Regions from separate parts of the Homo sapiens genome. Here regions 1, 2 and 4 are each linked to region 3. The links come from fine-mapping of genetic effects on gene expression. A gene starts in region 3. Each other region holds a variant in brackets. All regions are shown on one strand. Distances are from middle to middle.

Region 1 (2,739 bases), 190 kb before region 3:
AAAAAAGAAAAAAAAAATCCCAAAGTGTCAGAATTACTGTATTCAGCTATAGATGCATCCCTGTATATAAGATGCAGTTTCTTATACGTGTACAAATGCCTATCGCAGGCCAGGTGCGGTGGCTCAAGCCTGTAATCCCAACACTTTGGGAGGCTGAGGCGGGTGGATCAAGAGGTCAGGAGTTCAAGACCAGCATGGTGAAACCCCGTCTCTACTAAAAATACAAAAAATTAGCTGGGTATGGTGGCGCATGCCTGTAGTCCCAGCTGCTCAGGAGGCTGAGGCAGGAGAATGGCTTGAACCTGGGAGGTGGAGGTTGTGGTGAGCCGAGATGGTGCCACTGCACTCCAGCCTGGGCGACAGTGCGAGACTCCATCTCAAAAAAAAAAAAACAAACAAAAACAAAAAAAAAAACAAATGCCTATCACAGTTGGCTCAGTCACTTTTTCTGTGACTGTCATTGCTTCAATTTTATGTTGATTTATGAAACCTAAGTTTACACAGAAAAGAAATTAAGGACTAAATTAAGATACTGAAGAATTACTTAAGCCCCTGAGTTTTTTTTTTTCTTTTTTTTTTTTTGAGACAGAGTCTTGCTCTGTCACCCAGGCTGGAGTGCAGTGGCGCCATATCGGCTCACTGCAAGCTCCTCCTCCCGGGTTCTCGCCATTCTCCTGCCTCATCCTCCTGAGTAGCTGGGATTACAAGGCGCCCGCCACCACGCCCGGCTAATTTTTTGTATTTTTAGTAGAGATGGGGTTTCACTGTGTTAGCCAGGATGGTCTCGATCTCCTGACCTTGTGATCTGCCCGCCTCGGTGTGAGCCACCGGACCTAGCCAACCCCCTGAGTTTTTTTAAAGTTCTAATAATACTCATCAGGTTAGCTGTGTATGCAAGCATATTGTAAAATTGCTTTTTTTTTTTTTTATTTCCAGTTGGAGTCTAGCTCTGTCGCCAAGGCTGGAGTGCAGTGGCGCGATCTCAGCTCACTGCAACCTCTGCCTCCTGGGTTCATGCGATTCTCCTGCCTCAGCCTCCCAAGTAGCTGGGATTATAGGCAACCGCCACCATGCCCAGCTAATTTTTGTATTTTTAGTAGATATGGGGTTTCACTGTGTTGGCCAGGCTGGTCTCGAACTCCTGACCTCGTGATCCATTCACCTCAGCTTCTCAAAGTGCTGGGTTTACAAGTATGAGCCACTGCGCCTGGCTGTAAAATTGCCATTTAAGAGGCTGTGTGTAACTGGAGGTATTGATGGGTGTCTTTGAGAGGGTGGGGATTCAGAAAGGTTCAGGATGGGCCGGGCGCGGTGGCTCACGCCTGTAATCTCAGCACTTTGGGAGGCCAAGGTGGGCAGATCATGAGGTCAAAAGATCGAGACCATCCTGGCTAACATGGTGAAACCCCGTCTCTACTAAAAACACAAAAAATTAGCCAGGCGTGATGGCGGGCGCCTGCAGTCCCAGCTACTCTGGAGGCTGAGGCAGGAGAATGGTGTGAACCTGGGAGGCGGAGCTTGCAGTGAGCCGAGATGGTGCCACTGCACTCCAGCCTGGGCGACAGAGCGAGACTCCGTCTCAAGAAAAAAAAAAAA[AT/T]TTCTTTATGTCTTTCTTGGTCAAGTGTTTTTTTTTACATATGTACAATGGGGATCCTGAGTTGGAACCACATACTTTGGTAAACAAAGTGCAGTAGTGTTCACAGTTACCACGATCATATCCCGTGTTGACCCACCCTCTCTTTTTTAGGTTGCGACCTTTCCTTCCCCAGCAATAAACTGGTCTCTGGAGATCACTGTAGAATTGTAGTGGATGAAAAATCAGGTCAGGTGACACTGGAAGATACCAGGTGAGTATGTTCTGAGCTTCTTTTGGTGTTTCTTCTTGTAGCTTAAGAAGCCTGACTTCGTGCTCTGTGCTGTGTGCCACGGCTGAGGAGGAGAAGAAATGCTGTCTTTAGTGTGATAACAGCGGCTCATTTTTATAACAGCACAGTCATGTGTCCCTTAGCAACAGGGATCCAGTCTGAGAAATGTGTCAGACAATTTGATCATCTTGCAAACATCATGGAGTATACTTAAACAAACCTAGATGGTGTAGCCTACTACATACCTAGGCTATATGGTATAGCCGATTGCTCCTAGGCTATCAACCTATACAGCGTGCTACTGTACTGAATGCTATAGGCAGTTGTAACACAATGGTAAGAGTATTTATCTAAACACAGAACAGGTGCAGTAAAAATATGATATTTTAATCTTGTGGGACTCCTATCGTATATGCGTCTGTTGAAAAAAACATTATTATCAGCCCGGGCGCGGTGGCTCACACCTGTAATCCCAGCACTTTGGGAGGCTGAGGCAGTTGGATCACCTGAGGTCAGGAGCTCAAGCCCAGCCTGGCCAACATGGAGAAACCCTGTCTCTCTTAAAAATATAAAAATTAGCCGGGCGTTGTGGCATGCGCCTGTAATCCCAGCTACTCGGGAGGCTGAGACAGGAGAATCACTTGAACCCGGGAGTCGGAGATTGTGGTGAGCTGAGATGGCACCACTGCACTCCAGCCTGGGAAACGAGTGAAACTCCATCTCAAAACAAAACGAAACAAAAGTTTATTATCTGGGGCATGACTGTAGTTAATTAGGCTCCCAAGGTATTAGAAGATGTATTTCCTGGTTTCCAGGATGGGACACTTAGTGACACTTTGGTGTCTATGACCCTTCTTGAATGTATTCAAATTAA
Region 2 (2,739 bases), 30 kb after region 3:
TAATCGTCTCACAAAGGAAGTCAGAGTGGCCAAGTGTTGAAGCTTGATGGAGCCGAGTGGATCATAGTGTGCGTGTCTTCTTTAGGTCTCCTTATGTTTGCAGTATTCACCACAGATGTTTCCTCCAGTGAAAGGGAAGCACTGACGGTTGCCAGTTGCTTTGCTAGTGACATGAAAACAGGCTCGTTTTTTCTAGAAAGCAGCCTGAGTCTTCTGTGTGTTACTCAGCAAGGAACATGTAGACATGGTTATGAACGTGCACGTTTGCCTGTATGCATGCACGTGGTTACTCAGAAACGCAGACATGTTTACGCACACACGCATGTCTTTGCCTATACGCATGCGCGTGGTTACTCAGAAACGTAGACATGTTTACGCACGCATGCGTTTATGTATGTGCATGCACATGGTTATGCCGTGAGAAACATGTAGACATAGTTACGAACATGCACGTGTTTGCCTGTACGCATGCACGTGGTTACTCAATGAGAAACGCAGACATGTCTACGCACACGCATGTGTTTATGTATATGCATGCCCATGGTTACGCTGTGAGGAACATGTAGACATGTTTACGTGCACACACGCACGTGTTTACACATACGCACGTGTTACTCCCCGAGGAACCTGTAGGCATGTTTGTGCATACATATGCACGCAGATGTATACATTGATGTTTGTGAACAGCTGTTACACGTCCTTATTTCCATGTTCATTTGATAAGAGTTAGGATCAGATTTTGGGTGATTTTCACTGTTACTGAGCTGTGTGCCTGTCTTCCTTACCCAGGGCCATCCCACTTGCCATTTTCCAAGCAGAGCCCACGGTGAGGAAGCACTTTCTCCGGAAATGGCTCAAGAGCTCTTCCCTTCAAGACTTTGATATTCGAGCAGTGAGTGCCAGTTGCGTTCTCTACTCTTAAAAGTTTACAAGGAAAGCTAGACAGAGCAGAATATGTCTGAGTTGGATTATGTTTTTTGTCTGGCGTCTTCACTCTTGACTTCCTCCTTTCTGATAAGTAATAGGTGAGCACCTAATAACCTTTTAGGGCAAAACTGAAAACATGAAGTGCCTGGGGCCCTTTAGCTGTTCTATTGGATGGACTAAGGCCAGGGGTGTTGGCTCAGCCACCTACTAGCTCTGTGATCTAGAGGAGTCAGTGAAGCTCCCTGCCTTGGTGTCCTCTGTTGTGCAATGGGCACCTTTCATCATAGAGTTTCTGAGAGGATTAAATAAGACACAGTGGTTAGCCCTGTGCTCAGCATGAAGTGAGCCCCACTCTTGGCTGCTGCCACCTGCTGTTCTCTGTGCCCGTTTCCTGCACA[T/C]GCAGATTCTGGATTGGGACTACTACATTGAGCGGCTGGGAAGCGCCATCCAGAAGATCATCACCATCCCTGCGGCCCTGCAGCAGGTAAGGGCGGGGTCAGTGGCACGGGCTGTGGGGCTAAAAACTGTGCAGTTAGACAAGGGTCTCTCTCTGATGGGTGTTGGCCTCACACAGGTAAAGAACCCAGTGCCACGTGTCAAACACCCCGACTGGCTGCACAAAAAACTGCTGGAGAAGAATGATGTCTACAAGCAGAAGAAGATCAGTGAGCTCTTCACCCTGGAGGGCAGGAGACAGGTGACGGTGGGGCCCCAAGGCTGGGCTGGGCGGGATCCTTGTGACACACAGGACTCCAGGCTTCTTGCGCTGCTGTGTGTGCTGTAGTGAAGCTTCTGTTCAAGCATCGAAAATGGACTTTTTCTGAAAATGTGCCCATTGGCACTTTACTCTCTAACTCTGAGTGTCACTCTTTTGTTAATAGGACACCATTGTGAGGCTGAGGTGAGGGCAAGGAACTGTCTCCTTATGTGAAAATATTAGGGTGCACTACTTAGACTCAGTGCCTTGGGCAAATCACTGTCTCTTGAAGCCCCAGTTTTCTGAATGTGAAATGAATATCTTCCCTATGGAAACACTTAGAAACACAGGACACAGTGTAATAAAAGGTACAGTGAAAGTCAGAAGAGCAAAAGGAAAATTCTTAAATGCTGAAAATTAAAAGTAAGCTATAAATCAGAGCAGTATACAAACTCACATGACAAGAACAAGGTTCTTTGACCAGGTGCGGTGGCTCACACCTGTAATCCCAGCACTTTGGGAGGCCTAGGTGGGCAGACCACAAGGTCAGGAGATGGAGACAATCCTGGCTAACACAGTGAAACCCCATCTCTACTAAAAATACAAAAAATTAGCCAGGCGTAGTGGTGGGCGCCTGTAGTCCTAGCTACTCGGGAGGCTGAGGCAGGAGAACAGCGTGAACCCGGGAGGCGGAGCTTGCAGTGAGCCGAGATCACGCCACTGCACTCCCCTGGGCGACAGAGCGAGACTCCGTCTCAAAAAAAAAAAAAGAAAAAGGTTCTGAGATGGATTGGATTTTAAAATTTAACTGTCTTATTTGTAAGAGTTATATATGTATTCTTTCCCCTGCCCCCCAAGACGGAGTCTTGCTCTATTGCCCAGGCAGGAGTGCAGTGGCACAATGCAGCTTCTGCCTCCTGGGTTTGGCTCACTGCAGCTTCTGCCTCCTGGGTTTAAGCAGTTCTCCTGCCTCAGCCTCTAGTGTAGCTGGGATTATAGGCACACACCACCATGCCTAGCTAATTTTTATTTTTTTAATTTTTTTCTGCCTCAGCCTCTAGTGTAGCTGGGATTATAGGCACGCACCACCATGCCTAGCTAATTTTTATTTTTTT
Region 3 (2,739 bases):
CCGCGCCATGAGGACCCGCTCCCCTGGCCCTGTCTTTACCCGCGCCCCCAAGACCCGCTCCCCTGGCGCTGTCTTCACCCGCGCCCCGCAGACTCGCTCCCTTGGCCCTGTCTCCACACGCTCCATGAGGACCCGCTCCCCTGGCCCTGTCTTCACCCGTGCCCCGCAGACCCGCTCCCCTGGCCCTGTCTTCACCCGCGCCCCGCAGACCCGCTCCCCTCGCCCTGTCTTCACCCGCGCCCCCAAGACCCGCTCCCCTCGCCCTGTCTTCACCCGCGCCCCGCAGACCCGCTCCCCTCGCCCTGTCTTCACCCGCGCCCCGCAGACCCGCTCCCCTCGCCCTGTCTTCACCCGCGCCTGCGGACCCGCTCCCCTTGCCGTGGCTTCCCCGGGCGCGCGGGGCCCCTGTTGGGTCCTTGGGTGGAACCTCAGCGCCGACCCCCGGGTCTGGGCGGGCCCTCCACGCGCTGGGAGGGCGGGATCCGCAAGGCGCCTCACAATCGCTGACTGCGGACGCGGGTGTCGCCGCGGGAAGTTCAGCGCCGGGTCGGAGGGCGCCCGCTCCGGGGGTTCTGACCCGGGCGCGCCCCCAGCCTGGTCCCGGCCCGGCGCTCCCGTCCAGGCCCCGCGCCGCTGCGGCCGACCTGGGGCCGGGGCGGCGTCCGATTCCCGCGCCCCCGCTCACCTGGTGGCCGCCTTGGTGAGCACCGGGTAGAGCCGCAGGAAGAGCAGGTACTGGGCGAGCGCCCGCCGCGGCAGCGCCCCGAGCCCGGCTTCGGCCCGCAGCCTGGACGCGGCCGGCGCCATCGCCTCCCCAGCGCCGTGCCGCCGGGGGCACCGACCCCACCTCAGGCTGGCCGGGCGCGGAGCCCGAGGCGCCGAGAGCGGAGTGGGGACCGCCTGACATTTCCGGCCCCACCGCGGCCCGCAGCGCCGCCCGGTCCCAACCCCACGGTGCGCCGCGCGCGCCTACCACACACTTTTCCCCGGTCCCTGCCGGCCACCTCCCCCGCCGGGCGCCGGCGCCAATTGGAGCGCCTCGGGGGGCGGGGGAGGGGCGGAGCGCGCCTCTTGATGGACGGCGGCATTTCCGGCTCTCGCGAGTCTGGGTGGGAGCGCGCCAAATTTCTCCCCTGAAGCAGAGGTGGTAGCCAACGGCTCCATGTCTCTGAGGAGCGGCGGGCGGCGGCGCGCGGACCCAGGCGCGGATGGCGAGGCCAGCAGGTGAGGGGCGCCCTCCTGAGGCTCTCGGGCCGGCCCTCCGGAGGGTGCCATGGGGCCGTCCTCGGCTGGCGCCGCCGAGGCGGGAGGGAGGCCCGGTTCCCGCAGCCGCCCGCACTCGCCGCGCCTGACTGGGGTAGGGCGGCGCGCCCCGACCGCCGACGGAGGGGCTCGGGGCGGGCGGAGGCGCTACGGGCGCGGCTTCTTTGCGGGGAAACGAGGCGGGCCGCGCGGCCTTTCCCTGCTCGGCTCTTTCTGAGGTTTTTCGGGCCTCGCCTTCCGCGCAGCTGCGTTTGGGACCTGCCGCGCGGCGGGGGCGATGAGAGCGGCGGGACCCGGGCCAGGCCCTGCGGGGTGGACGCGCGGCTGGGGAGGGTGCGGGGAGGGGCGGGGCCGGGGACCCTGCCTGGGGGCCTAGCGCTGGGGGAGGCCGAGGCGGGCGGATCGCTGGAGCCCAGGATCCTGTTCTAGATCAGCCTGGGCTACAGAGAGAGACCTCGTCTCCTCTGTTTTATTTTTTTGGGCAGGGAGTCCCGCTCTGTCGCCCAGGCTGGAGTGCAGTGGCGCGATCTCGGCTCACTGCAACCTCTGCTTCCCGGGTTCAAGCGATCCCGCTGCCTCAGCCTCCCGAGTAGCTGGAATTACAGGCGCCCGCCACCAGGCCCGGCTAGTTTTTGTATTTTTAGTAGAGACCGGGTTTCACCATGTTGGCCAGGCTGGTCTCGAACTCCTGACCTCAGGTGATCCGCCCGCCTCGGCCTTCCAAAGTGCTGGGATTACAGACGTGAGACTCCGCGCCCGGCCCTTCTCTTGTAAAAACAAGAAAAATTAGACAGGCTGGTGGTGCGCGCCCGAGGTCCCAGCTATTAATACTCCCGAATCCGAGCCGGAGGTTCACCTGAGCCCGGCAGGTCAAGGCTGCTGTGAGCCGGGATCGCGCCACCGCACTCCAGCCTGGGCGACGGAGCCAGACCCAGTCTCAAAAAAAATAGAGCAAGGATAAGACGCGGCTGCTTGGTGGCCAGAGCAAACGGTAAACATGACCGGAGGACTGGCCTGCCATAAGCAGAAAACGGATGAGGCCCGGCGCGGTGGCTCACACCTGTAATCCCAGCACTTTGGGAGGCCGAGGCAGGAGGATCACCTGAGGTCAGGAGTTCGAGACCAGCCTGACCAACATGGAGAAATCCCGTCTCCACTAAAAAAATACAAAATTAGCGGGGCGTGGTGGCGCATGCCTGTAATCCCAGCTACGCAGGAGGCTGAGGCAGGAGAATCACTTGAACGCGGCAGGCGGAGGTTGCGGTGAACCGAGATCGCGCCATTGCACTCCAGGCTGGGCAACAAAGAATGAAACTCTGTCTCAAAAAAAAAAAAATAGAAAAAACGTGTGAGAACGTGAAGCTTTTTACAGACACTTAGCTGAACAAAATTCTTCCCAGAGGAGAAACCAAGTGGTAAGGATCCCTAACTGCTGTTGTGCTCATCGCTGTCTGTCCATATCAGGCAAGCCCTAGA
Region 4 (2,500 bases), 120 kb after region 3:
CTCCTCCTGGGCTGGTGTGTGTGCGAGCGTGTGTCTGTGTGTGCCTGCTGCGTGTCCCCGCCCCACGCCCGCCCCCGCCCCCTGCCAGCACGCGGGCCTACGCACCGGCGGGGGTGCGGCGGGCGGCGTCGGGGGCAGCCCTGCGGGGAAGGGGGCGAATGTGTGTTGGTGCTGGTGTGTGTGTTGGTGCGTGTGCTGGTGTGTGTGCTGGTGCTGATGGAACTCCGCCCGCAGCAGAGCCCCCGGGCCCAGGGAGGCGCCAGGCCGCTCGGCGCTCTGCACCAGAAACCGCGTGTTCAGCTCTTGCCTGAGCAGCTCGTGATCTACAAGAGAAAAAGAGAGAGAGACAGAGAGGCACGTTGGCCGCGGGCTCCCGGCGGGGCGAGGCGGATAGTCACCTGGCACTCCCGGGGTCGGCAGGCCAAGCCGGGGTGGCCGCTCGCCACGTGCGGGCCCAGGGGTGCAGGTAAGAGAGGAGCCTGTGACCAAGTACCAATCAGAATTCCCGAATGAGGCTGGCAATACATGATTGGCTGGCTGAATGAGACCGCCAGGCTGGCATCTAGAGGCAAGAGAGAACACGGTGAGCCCCTCCCCGGGAGCCAGGGTCCAGCCACCCGCAGGCCAGCATCCTGGTCCCATCCCGGGACACGGGGCCGTCCCCAGCCTGGGCCGGGCTGACTCGGAGCCTCAGGAAGCGCCTGGGGGCCGAGGGAGGAAGCCTTCGCGGTCGGGGTTCCACTGGGATGGCGCCTGCTTGATGTGCGGCCCCCTCCTCCCAGGGCTCAGGACCCAGCAGGCTGCGGGGGAGGCCTGGCCCCAGGAGGGGAGGCCCGTGCGCCCGTCTCAGTGTGAACACGCGTCTGTACGTGCATGGGCACGTGTCCTGCCTGTCCCCGCACACAGATGGCCTGTGGCCCAGCAGAGACTCCTGGGGAAAGGCACACCTGGGGGAACCACTCAGAGAGGCGCGCAGGGTCCGCAGAGACCACAGCAGGTGGAGGGCCAGGCTGTGCGCCCCTCCCCGGTGGCCGTGTCCCCGCACCCCCCAACCCCTGCCCTGGGCGAGATTGTGGCCGAGACACCTACCGGCCGGGTGTCCTGGGAGGACCAGGCTGCTGGCCGGCAGCGCCGGGGGCGGGGGCAGTGTCGGGGGTGCGGCAAACATGGCCGCGTGGAGCTGGTGCTGCGCCTGGGACCGGAGCGCCAGGTGTGAGGTAGACAGGTGGGGGCCCGGCCCGTGTGGCGACAGCGACACGTGCTTCCCCAGGCCCAGGGGGGCGCTGCTGCTCCTGCTGCGGGACACGGGGCTCAGTGCCTGCCAGCCC[G/A]ACCCCTGCAGAGCCCCCATCCTGAGACCACACAGGCCCCGTCCCCCGCGGGGACCCCACCTGAGGCCGTGCAGGCCGTTGGCTGCCGCCTGGCTGTGGCCCGCGAAGGCGCCCAGGGATGCAGGCACGTGTGTCGGGAGCAGGCCGCGGGGCTGCGGGGGTGGCGGCTGCGGGGTGTGGCGGTGCGGGGCGGGGGGTTCCTTCTTCACCAAGGGATTGGCGCGGGAGCCGGGCGGGGGCCCCGGGCAGGGCGCGGCATGGGGCGCGGGGCTGGCAGTGGGCAGGAAGCTCTCGGCGCTGAGCTCGCGGCTGCGCTCCAGGCCTGACACCTTGGGCACCGGCCCGGCCTTGGCCTCCGACTTCTCAAGCGCTGGGCCTGCAGAGAGAGGGTGGCTGCGTTCAGACCAGCAGGGCCTCGTCCCTGCCCCTCCTGTGGCCCAGGGAGCCCTGGTACGTGCCCGGTGCCCAGGCTATGTCTGGGCTCCGGCTATGCCCCCATTTCAGATGAGGAGGCAGGCACGGAGGCCACACAGCTAGCTGGATCTCACCCGAGGCTCCAGGCCCCGCCCGGCGGAGGGAGCTGGCTTGGGAGCCTGGGCCGTGGCCAGGGGTGGGGGTGGGTAGCCCACCTGCCCGAAGACGCATCACTGGCAGGGACAGGACAGGCCCTGCAAGAGTCAGTCCCTGGACAGGGGCTGCTATGACCTCATTTAACAGACAAAACCAAGATACATCAAGGACTTGGCCCAAGAGGGGAGCTGGATTTGAACACGGGAGCTAGGGCCTGTGTACCTAGGCCTCATGTTCACGGCCCCTGGATGTGCCCTCAGCCCAGGGCATGGGTCTGCCCCACCCCAACAGCAGCGCCCACAGCTGTAACCACCTTTTCTTTCTGGAACCCCCTGGTGGAAGGCTTGACCACTTCCTGGAAACTTGGGCAGGGACTGGGTGGGAGGCTTCCCCCTACTGTGACTGCCCGTCACCCGCCACCCTCAGCCCTGCTCCCTGGCCACCCTTCTGCCCACCTAGGCACGTCCCCCGCAGGTCCTGTGGGCCCCTCTGAGCCCCTGGGGCCTGCCCCCCCCACCCCCGCACACCCCAAACCCTCCTTTTCAGGCCCCTTCGGGCAGGTCTCAGATCAAGTCCCCAGGAGTCAGGAGAGGGCAGCGTCC

What was found.
Region 1: its variant is fine-mapped to the expression of POLE in whole blood (INTERVAL, PIP above 0.99).
Region 2: its variant is fine-mapped to the expression of POLE in whole blood (TOPMed, PIP 0.96).
Region 4: its variant is fine-mapped to the expression of POLE in whole blood (INTERVAL, PIP 0.97).

Annotation. Positions count from the first base shown.
Region 1 is chr12:132,876,663-132,879,401 of GRCh38, reverse strand. CHFR (checkpoint with forkhead and ring finger domains) reads left to right here. Exons shown (of 18, transcript NM_001161346.2): 3 at 1,748-1,847. Among named protein-coding and RNA genes, the nearest start is that of CHFR, 9.6 kb to the left of the region's middle. The variant AT/T (reference allele first, on the strand shown) is at 1,597.
Region 2 is chr12:132,656,021-132,658,759 of GRCh38, reverse strand. It overlaps POLE (DNA polymerase epsilon, catalytic subunit), which reads left to right. Exons shown (of 49, transcript NM_006231.4): 27 at 790-892; 28 at 1,331-1,411; 29 at 1,502-1,624. Among named protein-coding and RNA genes, the nearest start is that of POLE, 30 kb to the left of the region's middle. The variant T/C (reference allele first, on the strand shown) is at 1,326.
Region 3 is chr12:132,685,739-132,688,477 of GRCh38, reverse strand. POLE (DNA polymerase epsilon, catalytic subunit) reads left to right here and starts at 1,136. Exons shown (of 49, transcript NM_006231.4): 1 at 1,136-1,224. The coding sequence starts at 1,163. It overlaps PXMP2 (peroxisomal membrane protein 2), which reads right to left and starts at 891. Exons shown (of 5, transcript NM_018663.3): 1 at 686-891. The coding sequence starts at 807. RefSeq lists a silencer at 376-1,685.
Region 4 is chr12:132,569,130-132,571,629 of GRCh38, reverse strand. FBRSL1 (fibrosin like 1) reads right to left here. Exons shown (of 19, transcript NM_001367871.1): 7 at 1,389-1,704; 8 at 1,090-1,295; 9 at 399-562. Among named protein-coding and RNA genes, the nearest start is that of MIR6763, 12 kb to the left of the region's middle. The variant G/A (reference allele first, on the strand shown) is at 1,329.